Linked DNA regions of Homo sapiens. Each later gene encodes a partner of the first gene's protein in a complex. Each region holds a gene or a part of one and is shown in the gene's direction. Other genes may lie near its edges.

Region 1 (3,811 bases):
CAGTGGCTAAGCAGAGAGGTGATGGGGTCAGGTTTGTGTTCTGGAAAGATGTCTGGAGCTGCTGGATGGAGAATGGATTGAACACTGCGTTGTCCCAGCATGTGAGCTGCTGCCCGTCTCCCTGTCCGCTTCCCATTCCTGTGGAGACAGGCCTTGTGGGGCAGTGGCCATGGAGCCTACGGGGCAGCCTACGGGGCAGGCTACGGGGCAGCTTACGGGGCAGGCTATGGGGCAGCCTACGGGGCAGGCTACGGGGCAGGCCCTTGCACTGCACATCGCACGTTGAGCCACAGACTCAGAAGGCTTCTTCAGGGTCCAGGCAGGTGGGGAGGGATGGGGGTGACCTGGAGACTCCTGCCCCGCAGCAGAGGACAGTTTCATCTGTTCACTGGGGAGTGCCTTGTGGGCCTAGGAGTTCAGTGCTGTTTTTTTCTGATTTTCCAAGAGAAGCTGGAAATCTGGATATTTATAAGAAATCTGAATATTGAGTGATGGCAAAATCTCAACACCATGTGAGCCAAACAGACCAGTCAGGAGCCCTGGTTCAGGCTCTGCCCAGGAGCCTCTAAAGGTCTGTGACGTGAAGACATTTGTCGTTGTGCCGAGGCACTGGTTGGATTCGGGGGTGCGTGTCTCCCTCATGTCTGCCCGGCATCCTCGGCTCAGAACCCCTCCTGCTGCTCCTTCTTGTTTGCTCGTTGTCTTGTCTTCTTTTGAGGTGAGAAATGTGTTTTCCCTGTGGGGAATGTGGTGTTGAGAAAGAAAAAGGCTCACAGTAAGTGGCCTGGGGCTGTGCCCGAAAAGTAACTGATTCTGACGGAATCTCGCTGTGTGGCCCAGGCTGGAGTGCGGTGGCGCGACCTCGGCTCACTGCAAGCTCCACCTCCTGGGTTCACACCATCCTGCTGCTTCAGGCTGCCCAGTAGCTGGGACTGCAGGTGCCTGCCATCACGCCCGGCTAATTTTTTTGTATTTTTAGTAGAGACGAGGTTTCACCGTGTTAGCCAGGATGGCCTTGATCTCCTGACCTCATGATCTGCCTGTCTCTGCCTCCCAAAGTGCTGGGATTACAGGTGTGAGCCACCGCGCCTGGCAGTAACTGATTCTTAAGGGAAATGAGCTCCCGAGAAAGCTGGAAGCCTGTCCTACATTTTTTTTTAACCTATTTGCAGATTCGCAATTGAACCCTCTTGAGATTTTAGAGTCTACTGGTTTTGTATATTTTTTGCTTAACATTATATCTTCAAAGGTGAATTTTTTTTCATTTAGCATTATGATATGAATTTGTTTAAATGCTGCTACATCATTTGCATATTTTTTTTGGGTTAATGTGATATTTCTCCTAGTTGATATACTCTAATTTTTCAACCATTTCCATATTTATTTATTTATTGTTTAGAGACAGGGTCCTGCTCTGTCACCCAGGTGGAGTGCAGTGGTGTGATCACGGCTCACGGCAGCCTTGACCTCCCAGGTCCAAACGATCCTCCTACCTCAGTCTTCTGAGTAGCTGGGACTATAGGCATGTGCCACCACTCCTGGCTAATTTTTTTTTTTTTTTTTTTTTGTAGAGACAGGGTTTTGCCATGTTGCCTAGGCTGTTCAACTCTGGGGCTCAAAAGATCCTCCCAAAGTGGTGGGAGCCACCATGCCTGGCTGTTTGTGTATTTTTTGAGACAGATTCTCACTCTGTCACCCAGGCTGGAGTGTAGTGGCATGATCATAACTAACCGCAGCCTCAACCCCCTGAGCTTGAGTGACCCTCCCACCTCAGCTCTCCCAGTAGCTGAGACTATAGGTGCGTGCCATCATGCCTAGTTAATGAAAAAAAGTTTTTGCAGAGATGGGGTCTTGCTATGTTGCCCAAGCTGGTCTTCAGCTCCTGGGCGCGAGGGATCCTTCAACCTCAGCCTCCCAGAGTGCTGGGGTTGCAGGCGAGAGCCACCGCGCCTCGCTTATTTCCCTGTTTAAACTGGTCTTAGGTTATTTCCTTTTTGATATTTTTGCTGTTGTAATAATGGTGTGGGTAATATCTTTGAGCAAGATGCTCTTATATTTCTTTTGAGAAATTTTTTAGGCATCAATTCTCAGGAATGGATGAAAGGATCTAGTTATTTTATGATTATTGGCCAAATTGAAGAGAATTCTGCCACCTGCTGAATGCATTCTGTCTCCGGAGCTTCCTAGCCTTATATTTTAACTTTTTACATTTAGCTGTTTATTTTTAGGTGAAGTTGAGTCCTCCCTCTTTCTTCCTTGCCTTTCGCCGGCCACACGCCCCGTTGCCGTGCATGGGCCCCTGCTCAGTGCCTCACCTGACCCACTGCACCTGGCCAGGTGGAGGAGCATGTCAGCCGCATCCGGGAGGAGCTGGACCGCGAGCGGGAGGAACGAAACTACTTCCAGCTGGAGCGGGACAAGATCCACACCTTCTGGGAGATCACACGGAGGCAGCTGGAGGAGAAGAAGGCTGAGCTGCGGAACAAAGACCGGGAGATGGAAGAAGCCGAGGAGAGGCACCAGGTGGAGATCAAGGTGAGTGGGGCCGGCCTGCACGTGCTAACCTGGTCACCACAGAGCCCCAGAGGAGCTGGATCCAGTGAGGGTGCAGGTGGGACATTTTCTGTTCTTGGCTTTGGGAGTCACAGCCTTAAAGGTGTTTTTTATAAAAGCCTGAGGGAGAGACCCTGCAGGTCCTGAGGGTTTAAAATGCTGCCTCCACAACATGGAAGGAATATGGGCTCTGGGGGCAGACTGGCCTGTTTGCAACTCAGCTCTGCCACTTAATACCCCATGAGCTGGGGATGCACCTCACCTCCCAGCCTTGGTGTCCTGCTCTGTGCCTCAAGTGTACAGGTTTGCATAGGTGAACAGGCATGTGTAGCTGTGTAAAGGTGAGGCATGCAAGTGAGCAGGTGGATGCAAGTGAGCATGTGTGTGCAGGTGAGGAGGCGTGGCCAGGTGAGGAGGTATGTGCAGGTGAGGTGTGGGGAGGTGAGCACGTGGGGCAGGTATGTGCAGGTGAGCAGGTAGGTGCAAGTGACCAGGTGTCTACAGGTATGTACAGGTGAGGAGGTGTAGTACAGGTGTAGTGCAGGCGACCAGGTGTGTACGGGAATTTACAGGTGAGGAGGTGTACAGGTGACCAGGTGTGTACAGGTATGGACAGGTGAGAAGGTGTGGTACAGGTGTGGTGCAGGTGAGCAGGGGGGTACAGGTATGTACAGGTGAGGTGTGTTACAGGTACGGTGCAGGTGATCAGGTGTATACAGGAATGTACAAGTGAGGAGGTGTGGTACAGGTGACCAGGTGTGTACAGGTATGGACAGGTGAGGAGGTGTGGTACAGGTGTGGTGTGGGTGAGCAGGAGTGTACAGGTATGTACAGGTGAGGAGGTGTGGTACAGGTGACCAGGTGTGTACGGGTACGGACAGGTGAGGAGGTGTGGTACAGGTGTGGTATGGGTGACCAGGTGTGTACAGGTATGGACAGGTGAGGAGGTGTGGTACAGGTGACCAGGTGTGTACGGGTACGGACAGGTGAGGAGGTGTGGTGCAGGTGTGGTATGGGTGACCAGGTGTGTACAGGTATGGATGGACAGGTAAGGAGGTGTGGTACAGGTGACCAGGTGTGTACAGGTATGGACAGGTGAGGAGGTGTGGTACAGGTGTGCTATGGGTGACCAGGTGTGCACAGGTACGGAAAGGTGAGGAGGTGTGGTGCAGGTGAGCAGATGGTACTCCCATTGCCCTGCAGGTGTACAAGCAGAAAGTGAAGCACCTGCTATATGAGCACCAGAACAACCTGACAG
Region 2 (3,811 bases), on another chromosome or scaffold:
CCTCCCAGAAGTGACCCTCTAAGGACAGGAGCCTAAGGCATTTGATTCCCGCAACAGCTGAGGGAGACCCCAGGGGGATTAACTTTCTTGCCACCTGGCTTTTGGGCTGGGTGGGCTTCTTTGGCTTCAGAGATATCTCTGAGGCAGAAAGTGAGTAATGAGATAGGACGCTGCCAGCTAAGGTCTCTCATGGCTACAGCTGAAGCCGGAGGTAAGCTGAGCCCCTGCGGCAAACAACAAGGGCATTTAGTGGCGTGATAATTGGCACTGCAAGGAAGGGGTGCTTATCAGCAGAGCTTCAAGGACGTGAGTTCCTTCTGCCTCTGGGCTCTGCCATCCTCAGCATCTCCCCAGAGCTTGATTCTCTTAATGGTTGCAGTCAAGGACACGGGCTTCCTTGTCTGCATCTAGCAGGATGGAGAGAGCAAGAACTCTCCTTCCGACAGTGGCCCTTTAGTCTGATCAAGCCCCCTCAGGGTCTACACTGACCCTCAGCCTAACATCATGGCTGGGTGACGGCCAGGCTGGGCTTACATGAACAGCCTGGGGTGGGAAGCACCGAGTTGTCACTAGCAGTTCCGTTGGGTCAAGCCACAGAGGTGGTGGAGTCTCAGAAGTTTGCCCTGCATGCCAGACAGGCAGCATCCAAACCCATGCATGGTCTTGCATGAATCAGCCCCTGACCTTGTCTCTACTCCCATCTCAACTTCTTCCCAGCCCTCTCCCCGCATTCTGCAGCCACCCTGGCCTTTGCTCAGTGCCTGGCATGTGCCAAGTTCTTTGCTGCCTGGGGCCCTTGCCTGTGCTGTCTTGGCTTCCAGGAATGTGCTCTCCTCTGCTCTTCTGCGGCTGGCTCCCTCAGGTCTCAGATTAAATGTCACCTCCCCAGAGAGACCTCTGAATCTCCTAACTGAAAGAGGCCTCCCTGTTATTTTCTCTCAGGGTGCCATCTTGATGTTCCTTACAGCACTTAACTCAAAGCATAATGGTTTTATTTACTTTTTAAAACATTTGGCCGGGCCCGGTGGTTCACACCTGTAATCCCAGCACTTTGGGAGGCCAAGGTGGGCGACTCACTTGAGGTCAGGAATTCGAGATAAGCTTGGCCAACATGGCGAAACCCGTCTCTACTAAAAATATAAAAATGAGCCGGGTGTGGTGGCGGGTGCCTGTAATCCCAGCTACTCCAGAGGCTGAGACAGAAGAATCGCTTGAACCTGGGAGGTGGAGGTTGCAGTGAGCCGAGATCGCGCCACTGCACTTCAGCCTGGGTGACAAGAGCAAAACTCCATCTAAAAAAAATAATAATAAATTAAAAAGAAAACATTTTTCCCCCACTCCTAAAATATGTGCTCTTGCCATAAGGGCAGGGACCCCACAGGCCTTGTTCCCCACTGTATCTTCATAATTTAGCACATGCCGGAGGCCTGCTAGGTGACTAATAGTGTTTGCTGCTAGGTGACTAATAGTGTTTGCTGCTAGGTGACTAATAAATGACTGAAAGAAATTCACTCAGAAAAGCATGCTAGATTTTTTTTTCTATCTTTTGCATAGTACAGTGTCTAGATGCTATCCAATGAAGTATTGCTTTTTTTTTTTTTTTTTTTTTTTTGAGAAGGAGTCTCGCCCTGTCACCCAGGCTGTAGTGCAGTGGTGCAATCTCGGCTCACTGCAACCTCCGCCTCTTGGGTTCAAGCGATTCTCCTGCCTCAGCCTCCCAAGTAGCTGGGACTATAGGCGCCTGCCACCATGCCCGGCTAATTTTTTTTTTTTGTATTTTTAGTAGAGACGGGGTTTCACCATGTTAGCCAGGATGGTCTCCATCTCCTGACCTCAAGATCCACCTGCCTCAGCCTCCCATAGTGTTGGGATTACAGGCGTGAGCCTTGTACCCGGCCAAAGTATTGCTTTTTTAAAATACTTTTTTGCCAGTACTTTTAATGGCAAAAACCACAGTTACTTTTGCACCAATCTAATATTAACTACCTGGTTAACATTTTCCTCATTTTACTAAAAATAGAGTGTAGGGAGAATAAATAAAGTTACTGGAATGTTCCCCTAGCTGTTATCCAGGGAATCCAAGGTTAGCCATAAGTTGGGTCCCATTTAATTTAAGATATTTGTACCTTCCATGGGGCTTTACAATCTACAAAGGCATGCCTGGCCAGGTGCAGTGGCTCACGCCTGTAATCCCAGCACTTTGGGAGGCTGAGGTGGGAGGATTTATTGTGACCAGGAGCTCGAGACCAGCCTGGTCAACACAGCAAGACCCCATCCCTACTTAAAAACAAAATAGGGCCGGGCGCGGTGGCTCACGCCTGTAATTCCAACCCTTTGGGAGGCCAAGGCTGGTGGATCGCTTGAGCCTAGGAGTTTGAGACCAGCCTGGGCAACATGGCAAAATCCCATCTCTACTACAAACACAAAAATTAGCCAGGTGTGGTGGTGCAGGCCTGTAATCCCAGCTACTCGGGAGGCTGAGGCACGAGAATCACTTGAACCCGGGAGGCAGAGGTTGCAGTGAGCCAAGATCGCACCTCTGCACTCCAGCCTGGGCAACAGAGCAAGACTCCATCTCAAAAAATAAAATTAAGTTAAATTTAAAAGATTTTTAAAAAATAAATAGAAGGGTATGCCTATGCTGGTAACAGCAACTAAAACGCCCATTACCGAATAGGTGTCAGGCACTCTTCCAGTGCTTTTTATAGCTTATTTCACTTGGTCTTTATAACACCTGTAACACACATGATATCCTTATACCCGTTTAACAGATGTGGACGTTGAAGCTCACAGATGTTGGGTAACTTGTTCAAGGTCTCACCACATGGTTCAGCAGACCTGAACCATGGTCTGCTGGTTCTTTGAAAAGCCCATTTCTGACAGAAGGTCTCGGTACTGCTTCCCAGCCTGGAACACCCCCACGCCTGCACACTGCCTGTCACCCCACCCCAGTGCTGATGGTGCTGTGGCCAGGCTGACTCTGAAAGAGTACTGAGGAGGGAGGTGCAGCTGTGTTTTCAACTCTGTGGCAGCCAAGAAAATGGGCCTTTCTCCCTTTTTCTCCCCAGATCATCTACCTCCGGCGGTTCAAGTGCCTGCGGACGCTCAGCCTCTCTAGGAACCCTATCTCTGAGGCAGAGGATTACAAGATGTTCATCTGTGCCTACCTTCCTGACCTCATGTACCTGGACTACCGGCGCATTGATGACCACACAGCAAGTGTCTCCCTCTCAGTCTCCCAGCCCTGTGAGACAGATTCCTCAAGCCCCCAGGTTTCTTGGAAAAGGGGCATTGAAGAGTAGCTTCCCCTGCCCACAACTAGGAGAGAAAGGGCAGCTCCCTCTTCCTAATCCCTTTACCTGACTCTGTCAGAGTGATTCCAGCAGCACCCTTGTAAGTACTGTTTTGTGTGCGTTCCCAGGGGCCAGGCCTCTTCCACACACTGTCCCAGGGCCACCTCACAGCCATCCTGCACTGTCTAGTTTTCCAGATGAAGAAGCTGAGGAGGGCTGGGAGCAGTGGCTCACGCCTGTAATCCCAGCACTTTGAGAGGCTGAGGCGGGAGGATCGCTTGAGCCAAGGAGTTCAAGACCAGCCTGGGCAACATAGGGAGACCCCATCTCTACAGAAACTACCAAAATTAGCCAGGTGTGGTGGCACACACCAGTAATCCTGGCTACTCACAAGGCCGAGGTAGAAGAATCGCTTGAGACTAGGAGTTTGAGGCTGCAGTGAACTAAGAAGATGCCATTGCACTCCAGCCTGGGCAACAGAGTGAAAAAATTAAAAAATTAGAAAAGAAAAGAAGTTG

Evidence for each region.
Region 2: DRC4 (region 1) and DRC3 share a complex: the UniProt entries of both Homo sapiens proteins name them as parts of the nexin-dynein regulatory complex.

Annotation. Positions count from the first base shown.
Region 1 is NC_000016.10:90,028,962-90,032,772, forward strand, and holds part of DRC4 (dynein regulatory complex subunit 4), read left to right. Parts: exon of another isoform or gene 1-940; intron 941-2,214; exon of another isoform or gene 2,215-2,337; coding exon 2,338-2,535; intron 2,536-3,756; coding exon 3,757-3,811. UniProt on the Homo sapiens protein: Component of the nexin-dynein regulatory complex (N-DRC), a key regulator of ciliary/flagellar motility which maintains the alignment and integrity of the distal axoneme and regulates microtubule sliding in motile axonemes.
Region 2 is NC_000017.11:17,989,697-17,993,507, forward strand, and holds part of DRC3 (dynein regulatory complex subunit 3), read left to right. Parts: exon of another isoform or gene 1-118; intron 119-3,068; coding exon 3,069-3,215; coding exon of another isoform or gene 3,216-3,272; intron 3,273-3,312; exon of another isoform or gene 3,313-3,393; intron 3,394-3,811. UniProt on the Homo sapiens protein: Component of the nexin-dynein regulatory complex (N-DRC) a key regulator of ciliary/flagellar motility which maintains the alignment and integrity of the distal axoneme and regulates microtubule sliding in motile axonemes.